2 linked regions of the Homo sapiens genome follow. The protein of the gene in region 1 interacts with the protein of each later gene in a pairwise test. Each region holds a gene or a part of one and is shown on either strand. Other genes may lie near its edges.

Region 1 (7,023 bases):
GCTCCAAGCTCGGAATAGGGGAGGTTTTGCAAGCCAGTTCTTGCTACACACATCCCCGCGAGGAAGGTGCTGGCTACCCACGCTGTGGAAGGGAAAACTTGGCTCAGAGAGATGCAGTGACTTGCCCAAGGCCACACAGCCAGTGAGTGACCCAACTAGGTAAGAAACCAGAAACCAGTGACCACGACCAGTGCTCACTGCCCCAGGCCACAGCTGTGCCTCCGGGAATGCCCTCACCGCCTGCCCCTGAGGGTTAGGGAATCACTGTCACTTTTCCCGCTGTGGTCCCCCACACAGGCCCTGACCTGGTCCACTGAGACCTCCGGCTCCTCTGACTTCTCCTCCTACTCCTCCCCTCGCACACCAGCCAAGCCGTTTCCCGGGAAAGGCTCACACTGCCCACCTCCCTGTGCTGGTCCACACAAAGCCCCTGCCCAGAATGTCCTTCCCACCTTAGCTGTCCATATGTTCTCACCAACCTGGTCTCTGGCCCCCACACCCTCCAGGCTGCCCAGCCCTCCAAGCCTTTGATCCTGTCTGTATCTCCCTCTGGAATACGCTTCCAGCCCCATTTCACTCCCAACTTCTATTCATGCTTCAAAACCCTGCCCAGACAAGTCCTCCTCTCTGGCGGAGCTTCGTCGTCCTCTACCTGTAAAGAGCCCATGGTTCCCTCTCTCAGGTGACTACTTTGCCTGGACCACGAGCAGGCACTTGGTGAGTCTCCACCCCTTCAAGGGCTGTGGGTTCTGTGTGGGCCAGGCCGATGCCTGCTTATTCTCCACAGTCTCAGGCCTGTCACCCAGTGAATGCAGGTGGAAGGGAATTAAACCACCTCCTCCAGGAAGTCCTCAGAGAACGCTACTCAATGTTAGGCTGCAGAAGCGCTAACACTTCAGAGTAACACAAAAGACACCTCTCCTGAGAGGAGTCCCCCACACCCCCAAAAAGTGGGCAGCCCAGCCTTTTTAATACACTTTGCCTGTCCAGCCCTGGACAGAATTCCTGGTTACCTCTCAGTTCCTCAAACGGCCCTGTTCCCGCCTGTCTGGAAAGTGCCTGCAAACAGTGGCCCCTGACTTCCCACTCTCCTTCCTCTCTCCCTTCTCTTCCTCCCCACTGCCAGGCTGGCTGACTTTTACTCATCCCTCCAGCCCCTGCTCAATGTCACCTCCTCCAAGAAGCCTTTCCTGACTTCCAGCCATGTCGGGGCTACCACCCCACCTAAACCAGCACTCCTTGGGGAACTCAGCATCCCAGGTGGCAGGCACTAAGCCTCATTTGTTTGCCGCTGCACCCTGGGGCCAGCCCGCGGTCTGGTGCACAGCAGGTGCTGGCGTGCACCTACTCTGGGTACCACCTACACTGCTGTGGGATTTCAGGAAGAAGGCGCTGTCCAGGGAGACACAGTGAGGCATGATGGGAAAAGCCACACCTGTGTTGTTTTTCCAGTTTTGACCAGAAACACACTTTTGGGAAATGCTTGGACACTCTCTCCTCTAATGTCCAGCCACAGTGCTAGTGCCAAGAAGCCCCACAAGATTCACCTGTCTCCTCTGGGTCATCCCTGGAATCTCAGGGCCACGGTGATGGGGAAAGAGCTGGGACCTTGAGAAGCAACAGCCACCTTCTCTGAGGCCAGGCAGGGGGCTGAGGGTCTTTGTATGTTAGGTCTTGAAGTCTCATGTGATCCAAGACAAAAGGATCTTAAGTTACCCCCATTAGACAGATGAGGAAACTGAGGCCTGAAGAGGTCAAGGACCTTTCTTGTTGGGCGGGAACACAGAGTTCCTTGGGAAGCCAGGACATCCTGGCTGTGTGACCCTGGGTGAGTGACCTAACTTCTCTGAGCCTCAATCTCTTTAATGTGGAGGGGAAAATACCTATTTCTTGGAGCCATTAGGAGAATCCAAAAAAACAGAGGATGTTCAAGCCACCCCACTGGGAGATGCTGAGAAGCTAAGCAGTCTCATTTTCCATGTCCCCAAATGCCCCTGCCACAGGGCCCCTCCCCAGAGGACCAGAGGGACAGGTGCAGGAATGTGTCAATGGTGTGACACCCCTGAGGGTCCCCCTTACTTAAGAGACCCACAGGCAGCCAGGACCAGAGAGGAACCTTATGCACAGACCACCATGGGCAACCCTCACCCCATTTTCCGGATGAAGAAATTGAGGCTTACAGAGAGGAAGGGACTTGCCCAAGATCTCCCAGCCAGTGGGTGGCAGAGCAAGGCTAGATCCTGTTACCCAATTCAGAAAGGCCCACATGGTAAGCATCGCTGCTATTTCATGGCTGGAAATGGAGTTGGAGAGAGCAGAGACCATGTTTTCATCTAGTGCCTGTAGAACTCTGAGGCCTGGCCCTAGAATGGAGTGGAGGAGGGGAATGGGGCAGGTGGAAGGGGCCCCAGCACCCAGGTATCACCTGACCACCACCGAAGCCCACCCCCACGGAGGAAGGATGGTGCATTCAAGGAACCCAGAGACCACAGGGCACGCATGGCTAGTGACTTGGGGGTGAGAAAGGATTGATGTCATAGGGGCACGGACCAGTCAGGTCTTGGTTCTCAGGGCAATGGGGAACCAGCAAGGGGCCAAGCCAGGCAGAGGTGATGAGATCAGATTTGCATTTATAAAAGGTCCCAGCTGGGCACGGTGGCTCACGCCTGTAATCCCAGCACTTTGGGAGGCTGAGGCAGGTGGATCACCAGGTCAAGAGATCGAGACCATCCTGGCCAACATGGTGAAACCCTGTCTCTACCAAAAATACAAAACTTAGCTGGGTGTGGTGGTGCATGCCTGTAGTCCCAGCTACTTGGGAGGCTGAGGCAGCAGAATCGCTTGAACCCGGGAGGCAGAGGTTGCAGTGAGCCGAGATCGCACCACTGCACTCCAGCCTGGTGACACAGCGAGACTCCGTCAGGAAGGAAGGAAGGAAGGGAGGAAGGGAGGGAGGAAGGGAGGGAGGGAAGGAGGGAGGGAGGGAGGGACCCTCTTGGAGAAGTCTTAGGGAGGGGCCAGAGGGGAACAGAGGGGGAAACTGGCACATCAGCCAGGAGGGGAGGCCCTTACCGTGCTATTGGTTGAAAGATGAAGGCAGCTGGAGGTGTCACGGGGCAGGGAGAGGTGGAGCAGGAGGGAACAGAATACCCAACAGAAGGGGTGCCTGAGCTAAGGCAGAGGCTTGAGCCACTGGACATCATGAGGCACCCACACACACAGCGGCAGGAGCAGGGATGGGGCTGCCGAGAGGCCAGGCAGAACCTGGTGGGGCCTGGCGCACACAGCTAGGGAGGCTGATGTCATCCTGTCCACTGGAATCCCAGGCTGGATTCGCCAGTTTACCGAAGAGAGGATTTCAAATGAAAGTGAAAATTAAGTGCCAAATGATTCAACCTCAATTAGCAGCACACATTCTTCCATGCAGAGCTGAGCCCTGCCTTCCTCCCCGGGGTCGGGGAGGCAGTCATGACGGAGCAACAGGAATGGGCTCAGCTCTGTTCTAGAAACTGGCGCGATGGCAGGGAGTGAGGCAGATAAGGGCCCCGTCCTCAGGGAGCTTCCATCCAAGAGGAGGAGTGGCAGCAAAGGAGCAGCAAGATGAAGTCGGGCTGTCGGGGGGCCTATGAAGACAGCCAAGCAGGGTGGTGGGATGGAGAGGGCAGGTTGGAGACGGGGGGCTGCTGTAGACAGGGGGTCAAGGAGGCGATGTTTAAGCAGGGAACTGAATGACAGGAAGCAGGGAGGGTTCTGGGTGTCATAAAGGGGAGTGAAGAGGTTCGGGGGAGGCAGAGATCATCAAGGCAGTCTGTGTACTTGGAGTGAAGTGGGTAAGGGGTGTGGTAAATGAGGCTGGGGAGACGGGGGCTGTTGTTCACGGTTTGCGCATTAAGATGAGTTTTAAGTGTGAAGGGAGCCACAGGAGAGATTTAGGCCAGGTTAACTTTCAGTTGTTTTTTGGGAGGCTCTTTTTATTTTATTTTATTTTTTGAGACAGGGTCTCACTTTGTTGCCCAGGCTGGAGTGCAGTAGCACAATCACAGCTCAATGCAGCCGCACCCTCCTAGGCTCAAGCGATCCTCCCACCTCAGTCTCCCGAGTCGCTGGGACTACAGGCATGCACCACCATGCCCGGCTAATTTTTGTATTTTTTGTAGAGATGGGGTTTCTGCTCCATGTTGCCCAGGCTGGTCTCGAACTCATGGGCTCAAGCGATCTGCCTGCCTCAGCCTCCCAAAGTGCTGGGATTACAGGCATGAGCCACGGCGCCCAGCCTAACTTTCAGTTTTAAAAGCTCACCAGGGCTTCCGTCGAGCTTGGTTCTAACGAGGTGAGGTGTAAGGGGGCGCCCCTCTATGCCACAGGCACACGAGGGCACTGTCTTCCTGCCATGTTTCTGTATCCCCAACACCTAGCACGGGGCCATCCACAGAGCAGACTCAGGCTCCCCATCTGCGAAACGGGGGATTTGATGCAAAGAACTCACAGGGCCCTGCCGGCTCCAATATAGGGTCTATACAACAGAGCAGGCGGCAAGAGCCAATCACGGTGCAGCCCCACGAGTCCTGGCAACTGATTGGCTGCTCAGGAAGGTGTCAGTTCCGAAGGTTCAGGTCCATCCCTTTGCTGTTAACCCCTCATGGCTGGCAGCATGGGGAGCCAGCTCTCAGGCTTATCTGATCTTGTATCTGCAGCAGGGGCCTCCCCAACCCCCAGCAAACCTACCATCCTCAGCCCAGAAGCTCTCTCCACCTTAATCTCAGGTGCCAGAGATTTGGGGCTGCCTGTTTTTCCCAACCCACCTTCTCTCCCTCTTCCCCCTCCAATGTCAAGGGCCCAGTGTGACTATTTTACCCTCCCTTCACAGGGGCACAGGCATTGGCAGTAGCAGGATCCCGCTCTGGGGTCTCGTCTGGGGCTGAGAAACTTTGTGCCTGAAGCCATATGAGGGTGTGAGGCAGGATTCACCACAGAACTTGCAAGACCCAGTGCAAAATGGAAGTACAGGGCCCATGCTCAAAAATGATTAAGAATTTCAAGATGTAGACATCAGAGTATTAAACAAGGTGCAGGACCCTTCTGAGCATGGGGCCCTGTGCAATTGGATAGGTGGCCACACGCATAGAGCTGGCCCTACTGGGATACCTTCACCCAATCCTTCGGAGAGACTTGGGAAGGTAGATCTGGTCGGGCCTATTTCTCCAGCTTCTGTGATGTTGTCCAGGACAACAAAGTCCACTAGGGGCCACCAGGGATCAGGGACCTCCAGGCTGCTGAGAGCACCTGGCCATAACCTGGCCTCAGCAGCCTCAGCCATCCATCTCAACGTACAAGGGAGGTGCCTGGGGAAGGAGCTTGGGACTTCCAAGCCTCTACCTCTTATAGAAAAGGAGATTGAGGCTCAGAGAGGGGAAGTGATTGGTCCAAGGTCCTTCAGCAAGTGGGTCCTTCAACTCAGCCAAGATGCACAAAGGCGGGACAAGGTCTCAAGCCAGCATCCAGAGACCCAGGGACAGAGGCAGTGACAACACACTGCTGGTGACCATGGCCTTGAGCAGGAGCTGCCTCACCTAATTCTCCCTCCCTGCTCAGGTTTGCAGCCAGCCCTCCCTTGGCACTTAGAGGCACCTGATAAACGTTTGATAGTTGATGGTGAGTGGGCAGGAATCCTTGTTCCCATTTTGTATATAAGGACAGGACCAGAGAGGGGCACTCACCAGCATCAGGACCGAGCTGGGGCAAAAGCGGCTTTCTAGGCTCTCTGCTAGGGTTTCCCTGCCCTCTCCTGGCTGCCTGCCTTCCTCTAGCCTGGGCCAGGGCATCTAAGGCAGCTGAGCAGAGTGTCCCGGGGAGAGACAGCAGCAGAGAGAGCCCAGCCCACCCAAGTCTGGGGTTGGGGGTTGGGTAGTGAGGAATCCTCTGGGGTGGGTTGGAAGCATCTCGGCTCCAGGCTCTCTTCTCCCTTCTGCCTGCCCTCCTCTTCCTAGGAGAGCCTGATCCCTGCCCCTGAAAGGGGGGTTCATTAAGATCAAGAAATGAGGGCCCCCGCGAGGTTCTGCATGGACCTTGGCTCTGAAGCTGGACAGGACCGTGTAAGCCTGGGAGGCAAGCCTCTTAGTGGCTGTGAGGCTCAGCTTCCCCATGGGTGTCCTGTGCATGCTAATAGCCATCTCCCAGGGGGATCAAATGAGATCACACATGTGTGACATCTTGCGCAGGGGCCAGCATGTGGCAGGCCTTTGCTAGATGGTGGCTATGATCGATCTTCCTGTGGTCCTTCCCACGATGTCCAAGTCAGGTCAACTCAAAACACATGTGTTGTGTGTAAGGTAATGCATGTGTCATACCATGTAGAAGACACTGTGCTGAGATAATGGGAGACCCACAAAGAGCTGGCCATGGCTCCCTGCCCTCCACAGGCTCATAGTCATGGGAGAGATCAGATAAAGTCACTCTGGGGAGTGGAGACCCCTTCGTGGTAGATCAGAAAGGCTTCCCGGAGGAGGGGGCACTGGAGCTGCGCCTGGAGGCTTTAGACAGGTGGATGTGGGGAGAAAAAGCACTATGGGGAGAGAGAACAGCTTGAGCAAAGGCCCTGGGGTAGAAATGTGCAGGGAGCTTGTGGCGAACAGTAGGGTCCGGAGGAGGCAGAGTGTGAAGCAAAGTAATGGGTAATAAGGCCAGGTGGGAGGTTGAGTGAAGGCCATCAGGAGCCTTGAGTGCCATGCTAGGGAGTCGGGGAAATGTCCTAGGAGTGATGGGGACCCCTGAGGGCTGGCCAGGGAGGGGCTGGTGCCTCCCCAGTCATCCTTCCCTCCTGAGTCTGACACCAACACGCTCCCTCCACGTCCGATGACAGCCCTGCCTCCGCATCCTGCAATAGAGCGCAGGGCCTCCCAGGCCTGCAGACAGCTCTGTTCCACCCCTCAGCATGCCTTGTCCCCAGGTGTCCCTGTTCCTTGGAGTCAGGCTCTCTGGATCACCTCCTCCAGCAGCCTGCTTCCGCAGAAGCTCCTCTCCCAG
Region 2 (7,023 bases), on another chromosome or scaffold:
CTGGGGCGCAGGGCTGAGATGAGAGGGCCCTGGGGCTGGTGGCGGTGGGGGTGCGGGGAATCACTGAGGGACAAGAATGGGGATCACTATGGTCAAGGGCTGTTGGGGAGCACTTGGCAATAGAAAGTTATCGGGAGAAGGCCGGGCACGGTGACTCATGCCTGTAATCCCCACCGCCTGTAATCCCAGCACTTTGGGAGGCCGAGGCGGGCAGATCACGAGGTCAGGAGATCAAGACCATCCTGGCTAACACAGTGAAACCCAGTCTCTACTAAAAAATACAAAAAATTAGCCGGGCATGGTGGCAAGTGCCTGTAGTCCCAGCTACTTGGAAGGCTGAGGCAGGAGAATGGTGTGAACCCGGGAGGCAGAGCTTGCAGTGAGCCGAGATCGCACCACTGTACTCCAGCCTGGGTGACAGAGTGAGACTCCATCTCAAAAAAAAAAAAAAAAAAGAAAAGAAAAAAAAAAGAAAGAAAGTTATTGGGAGAAGGGGCTGGGTGGTCACAGAATCCAGGATCTGGGGAATCAGTGGGAGATGCTGAGATAAGGGGCTGAATCACTGGGGATCAGCGGGGCTGCCGGGTGCAGGGGCTGGGGTGGTAAGTGGAGTTGAGGGAAGGAAGAGGAACTAGAACGTCATTAGGAGAGGGAGCAGGAGCTATAGACATGGACATCGTTGAGAACAGGGGCTGGGGAAAGGAATTAGCTGGGGAACAAGGAAAGAAGGACAGGGGCTGGGGGATGTCCATCCACTCTTTCACTAAGTTGTGTGCAGTGGTAATGGTAGTCAAGCACTCAGCTCAGGCACTTTTCCTCCTGCTGCAGGAGTTAGGCCAGGGAGCTGATGTTGGGGATGAGGGTTCTGGGTGGGAGTGGAAGTGCCTGCCAGAGCCTCACCTTCAGCCTGCCCAGCCGAGCCTTCAGTCTTGGATGGTGTTGTCAATTTTTTCCTCCTCTGCTTCTTCACCATGGGAGAAGGAGGGGGTTCCCGACTCAGGGGGCTCAGGTCTCCAGATGGGGTACAGTCTTAGGGAGGAAGACACAGCTGCCTCAGTAGCCCCCTCCACAGATTTCCTGATTTCTTGATAGCCTGTCTCATTCCCTGAACTAGCTTTGGCATTTTAGGGCTCCCCTCCTCAACTGTCCCTCTCCAGGAGTTCCCCCTTGATCATTCCTGGGGATGCAGGGAGATGAGAGGTTTAGAGTCAGTCCTGCACTCAGATCCTGGTTCTGCCACTTACTGGCCTTAAGACCTTGAGCAAGGCACTTAATCTTCTGAGCCTCAGTTTCTTTATCTCTGAAATAGGGGTAATAATCTTGACCTGACAAAACTGTTGTAAGGATCATTTGTTTACAATGTTATTTGCATACTATATATATATATTTTTTTTCAAACATGTCAAACATGGCTGACTATGTACTAGACAATATTCTCAGTTTGTTTAAACCTCAAAGCAACCCTCTGAGGTAGAAACTATTATCTCCATGTTACAGATGAGGAAACTGAGGCACGGAGAGGTCAAGTAACTTGCCCATGTGGCAAGCCAGGATTCAAGCTCAGGCAGTTGACGTTAGAGTCCACTTGTCTTAACCATTATGATAGACATGGTATGATTGAACTTATTCATGTGTGGGGCTCCATGTGTTCACTCATGCATTTATTCCAGCCTCCAAGCCTTCACCCCATATTCATTTCCCACACTCATCCTATTTGGGTGTGGAAGACAGCAGATGGAAGGTCATCCCCACTGACCCGTGCTGAGGGCTCGGGCCAAATTCCGGTCTGGCTTCAGCAGGTGTTTGGATGTCTGATCTGGTGGTGGCTGCAGGGAACTGGGGCTGGGGCTAGGGCTTGGCATGGGAGTAGTGGCTTCTGTCGGAAGAAGATGAAACCTCAGTGAGCCTCTTTCTTCTGGCCCCATTCCTTATGTGGTCCCTCTTTATCACCCAGCTTCCTACTCGCCCAGTGCCAGCCCCCTCTTCCCTCTTACCCCTCTTTTTCCCCAGCCCTGGCCCCTCTTCTGCTCCTATGTCATAAACCTTACTCACCCAGGCCTTCACCCATCTGGACAGTGCTCATGTCCTTGACGAGCCCGTTAATGCTGGCTGAGGGGCCAAAGGCAGAGATGGCCCTCGGGGGCCGCTTGCCCGGGACTTTGACTGTTGTTCGCAGCAAGTCCATCTCCTTGCCGTGGGTACTGTGGATGTAATCCTGGAGGGGTACAGGGCCGAGAGTGTAGGGAAGGTTGGGGTCCTTGGTATGCTGGGAAGCAGTCAACATGGTACAGAATAGAGAGGGACTGGGGAGGGGTCTTGGGGGCCAAATGGGTTGTGATGAACATCTAGGGGATGGGCCCATCAGACTTGGCCCAGCAATTGTCTCCTCCAGAAAGCGTTCCCTTCCTGGGTGCTCTCCCACTAGACTGCAAGTTCCTGGGGCAATGTATTTACCTTTACATTCCTGGCATGGGCACATGGTGGGCTCTTAACACATGCCTGCTAAACTTAAGAGAAGAGGACTAGCACTTCCTAGAAATGAGGTTAGTGCTTTGTCAGAGGCATAGACAGGTAGAACTTGAGGGAAATCCAAAGCTGGCCAATGTGGCCCAGTCTCTGCCACTCACGTTAATACTGGGGTGGTAGAGTAGAAAGCCATTACTGGACAGGGTTACATATTTCTTCTTCCATTCTTTGTTCAAGGAATTGCCACTTCGTTTTAGTAGGAAGCTCTGGAGAAAGGGGAAAGACACATGTGGGAAAAAAGCCAACTAAGACCAGCTGCCCCTAGCCTGTCCCAGCCCCTGGATCACTCACCTGTTTGATGGGGATGGCTCGCCCACTCCCTGTTGTCTCTCCCCGACTATCCAAGCTTCGTTTCTCGGAGTCACTACCCCGACGATTCTGGAATGGTTATTGGAATCAGTTTGAGGATGGATAGAGGGATACACTGATGTGACGATAGGGAAGATAGATGAAGAAGGGCCCAACAGAGGAGTCTAGGGACTAGGGAAGATGGGCAGGTCATGGGGGACAGGAGGATGGGGGTCAGCATGTCCATGTCCAATACCGCAAAAAGGCTGGTCCTGCGCTTGGCTGCCCGGTGCAGGGACCCTGGGGTGCTCAATCCAGCCACTGCAGCTGCCTCGGCTCGGAGCTCCCGGTGACCAACATTCGGTGAGGACGGGAGGGAAGAAGAGTAGTCGCTAGTGTGGCCCCCGTTACTAGCCTGGGCACATATGGAAGAGTCAGCAGAGCTGAGATGCCCCCTACTCCACCAAGCTACACTCATATCTCGTTATGGGGAATTTGAGACATTCCTTGATCACCTCACCATTTATTTATGTTGTCATTAATAATTTTTAAAATCCTCACTAACATTGTGACAATGCTTTAAATGTTGTAAAGGTTGATTCACAAGTATTGTGTCATACAATCTTCCTGATAGCCTTGGGAGGTTAGGTGAGTTGCTTAAGGACACTGCAAATGATGTCTCAAATCTGGTTGATTTCCAGTCCAATGCACTTTCTGCCAATAGTTTCACTGCCATTTCCATCTGTTTCCCCACTCCCTGAACCTCCTTGGGTACTCTGTACCTGTCCTAGGATCCCCAGCCCCTCTGCATCTTACCGGCCCCTCTGCAGACTCTGAAACCCCAACTCACCTGGCCAGCTACCGGAGTGGATGCAGCTGAGTGGCTTGGGGAGCTGGGCAGGGACTTGCAGGCAGCCAGAAGCTGTTGCTGCTTGCGCAAGGTCACCACCTTCTGGGCCACTGAGGGGAGTTGACGGAAGGAGGTGTGAGCAGGCCAGATACCCAAGACCACCCTTCCATGCCCAGCTTTGAGAAATCCCCAGTAGACAACACAGGACCCAACTTCCTTGTCACTGTGGCCTCCATGCCACCTGTGGCCTTGCCAGCTCCTCCAGCCCAGAAAGACCTTGCGACTATTAAGCAAACCTTCTCTGGCCTCCCTGATCTCTCCTCCCTCCCACAAAGGCTAATTTCCTGTCACTCACAGAGAGAGGCCTGGATGCCTGACCACTGAGAATATCCCAGGCCCCTTGCTCTGGCTTCCCACATATGCTGGAGATCACTACACTCACCCTCCTGGAAGACCCGATCCACATTGAGCCCATAGGTTGCACAAGTCTCATAGTAGCTGCAGCGTTTCATGTCCGCGCACAGAGCTCTGGCACGAGCATCTCCCACCACCCGAGGGGAGGAAGCACTGATCCTGTCTGAGGGGACAGGAAAGGGGCAGGATTGAACAAGGAGCCCCACCTTGTTCGATTTTTCACAATTCCCTTATCCTTGCACTGGGCCCTCAGGCTGGGTCCACTGGGGATGGGGTGTGAGAGATCATCTTTTCTGTGACCAGGTGGAATGGGAGTACATAAGCCCTTTCTGAGTACTGGGCCCAGTTCACACACCTAGCTGGGTGAGCTGTGTGTGTGTGTGTGTGTGTGTGTGTGTCCTCAAGGAATACTCCAGAGCTGCTGAGTGGTGCTTCCTGACAAGGTCTACATAGCTGAGACCCAGGCGCGAGCGACAATCACCCTGCCCTGCAAATCCATAGAACCCTGAACTGGTGGGAGGACACCAGCTTGTGAACTAGGAAAAGGTTGGGTGCCCATGGGTCATGGCTGGACTGCCCACTCTGCAGCAAGAAACCAGGATGCAAGCAACAGGTGGAGATAGGCACCAGCAGAACAGGCATCCAGACCAAGTCCCACCAGCTCGACACAGGGGAGTGCTGGAAAAGCATTTCCTGGCCCTGGCAGAGTCTGGGAGCCTCTGAGTCACTTCTCTGAGAACTAAAAGGTTTTCTGCTCTCTTCTTTTCATCATCATTTCCTTTGTGTTTTCACTTTGTTTTTGGATAAGTTCCTTTAAAAGGTGTCAGCCTTACCCAGCTGTCGCAAAAAGGAAGATGGAAAAGGTTTCCTATCCACCCTAGGACTTGAGATTTTCTGTGTCCTAGGATGGTGGCACTAGGAAATGGCAGTGTCAGAACACAAGGTAGGTGACATTTCAGGAGAGGCAAGGAGATGGCTACTATAGCTGTCCTTTCCTCCCTGGAGATCCCCTTTTCTCTGCTCAGACCTTGGGAAGTTATTGTTTGGTTTCATGACTCCCTTATTTGGAGACCAGGCTCCCTCCAGAAGGGTACTATAATCCAAGTGGCCATTTCCACACCTTACCAAGTTCTCACCCATGTTGGGCAATATCCCAGTAGCCTCCTTAGGGCCTCCCTTGAAAGCAGTGCTTTCCTAACCCCTCCTTACCTTGTGTCCCCACCAGTGCCAAGGCCAGGCCTCCTCGTCCCTCCCCGCGAAGGGAACTCAGCTGCCCATGGAGACGGCTCACAGCCTGGAAACTGTTCTCATCCTCCAGGCTGAAGACGAAGATCACAGCATCTGCCCAGCCTGAGAACTTGCGGGGAGTGAGGGAGCAAATGGAAAGTCAGACAGGTCTACTCCTCTGGACCCAATCCAGATGAAGACCTGGGAAACCAGAGCCCTCTCCTTTGGCCAGTGCTGACCCCAGCCAGCCTGTCCCCCACCACCTCCACCCTCACCTTGGCATCAGGTGCCCCAGCTTCCTCTCGGATTAGCACCAGATGTGTCTGTCCATCCACCAACATTTCTTTCTTGTACTGCTCACCTGTCCAGAAGAGTTGGAAGGGGTAACAGGTCAGAGGTGACAGGTCACCAAACCTCCCCATGCTCCCAGTGCTTTTGCTATTATGGCCTCATCCTTCCCCCCTGGTCTCCACACCTGCCTAATCATTGATCTCACTCCTGGATCCCTGACCCCAATGGTTAGCTTACTATGGCTCTTCAGAACTCACTCTCTGTCTTCTCCAGCACCTGGTATGAGCCAGTCAGGAATCGGTGGATGAGCGATGACTTCCCACTCCTGGCATCGCCCAGCACACCCTGAGGGCAAGGTTGTGGAGCAGAAATTGTGGGATATAAGAGAAGGCAGGATGCATGGGTCTGGACACTCCAGAAAACCCAGAGAGATAAGTCATCCAAGCAGGACCCTACAGGGCCTGGATGACAGTCATTCCAGAGAGAGCAGTTGGGAGGATCAGAGCAGCTGGGGGGATCAGAGCAGTTGGGAGGATCAGGGCATGAGTGTGGTAAGAAATGATCCCAAGCTCAAAGTGGAGCACGAGCTGAAGAATGTCAGCAATTCAGTACCAGCTTTTTTGTGTGTTGGGTTGTTTAGAAAACATACTAGATATGTTGTGTGTGTGTGTCTCTGTGTGTGTGTGTTTGTAGCATGTCACAGCTCTAGGCACTAGTTGGAAAACTTTACCCAATTCTAGGCAGTACAACATGAAGGCCAAAGGGCAGATACCAGAAATGAGAAGCCTGGAGGAGGACCATGAACAAACAGGAAAAAGGGGATGGCTGCATAAAGACTAGATAGGAAAAACTTGTGAGGAGGCTGTAGCAAACCCCATGTTGGTGCTATGAAGGCAGACTCTCAGGAGAACTGGAAAACGATTCCCTATTCCCAAAGAGAGAGAGAGAGAGAAGGAGAGGTGAAGGGAGAGAGCTGAGAGTGCAGTGGGTGGGAGGTCAGCCTTCCCTATAGGCAAGGGGACTGGGTTACCTACCAGGCGCAGTTCAGGAATGGAGCGGCTCAAAGTCCATTCCTGGCTATTGATCACAGCCTCTGTAACGGGAGAAGGGCAGTAAGAGGGGAGGCTCCTGGCTCAGAAGGACCCCCAACACTGAGCCACCCCTCCTCCCTCTGCAGCTTTCCAACCCCCCCCCAACCCTGCCTGCACTGGAGAGGTGTGTGCAACAGACAGGTTTGAGGGTGGTCCCCAGGCCTCCCATCCCAGCCACTCTCCCCCAGCTGTTGCTGCCGCTCAGTGGTTGCTTAGCAACGGAGCTAGCAAGACAAAAATACTTCAGTTGGCATCTCCCTTAAAGCACATCCCCAAACGCGGGTCCTGGCCCCAGACAGGGAGACCAGGGCTCTGACAGTGGCAGGTTCTTCCCTC

Evidence for each region. Proteins that work in one complex are often made in the same cells at the same time.
Region 2: the proteins of RAC2 (region 1) and AGAP2 interact in a two-hybrid assay, tested with the Homo sapiens proteins (one study listed by BioGRID).

The regions. Positions count from the first base shown.
Region 1 is NC_000022.11:37,234,265-37,241,287, forward strand, and holds part of RAC2 (ras-related C3 botulinum toxin substrate 2), read right to left. Parts: intron 1-7,023. UniProt on the Homo sapiens protein: Plasma membrane-associated small GTPase which cycles between an active GTP-bound and inactive GDP-bound state.
Region 2 is NC_000012.12:57,728,739-57,735,761, forward strand, and holds part of AGAP2 (arf-GAP with GTPase, ANK repeat and PH domain-containing protein 2), read right to left. Parts: intron 6,690-7,023; coding exon 6,631-6,689; intron 5,942-6,630; coding exon 5,854-5,941; intron 5,667-5,853; coding exon 5,581-5,666; intron 5,436-5,580; coding exon 5,288-5,435; intron 4,242-5,287; coding exon 4,107-4,241; intron 3,775-4,106; coding exon 3,665-3,774; intron 3,230-3,664; coding exon 3,071-3,229; intron 2,905-3,070; coding exon 2,818-2,904; intron 2,733-2,817; coding exon 2,628-2,732; intron 2,216-2,627; coding exon 2,053-2,215; intron 1,877-2,052; coding exon 1,757-1,876; intron 1,030-1,756; coding exon 901-1,029; intron 1-900. UniProt on the Homo sapiens protein: GTPase-activating protein (GAP) for ARF1 and ARF5, which also shows strong GTPase activity. Isoform 1 participates in the prevention of neuronal apoptosis by enhancing PI3 kinase activity.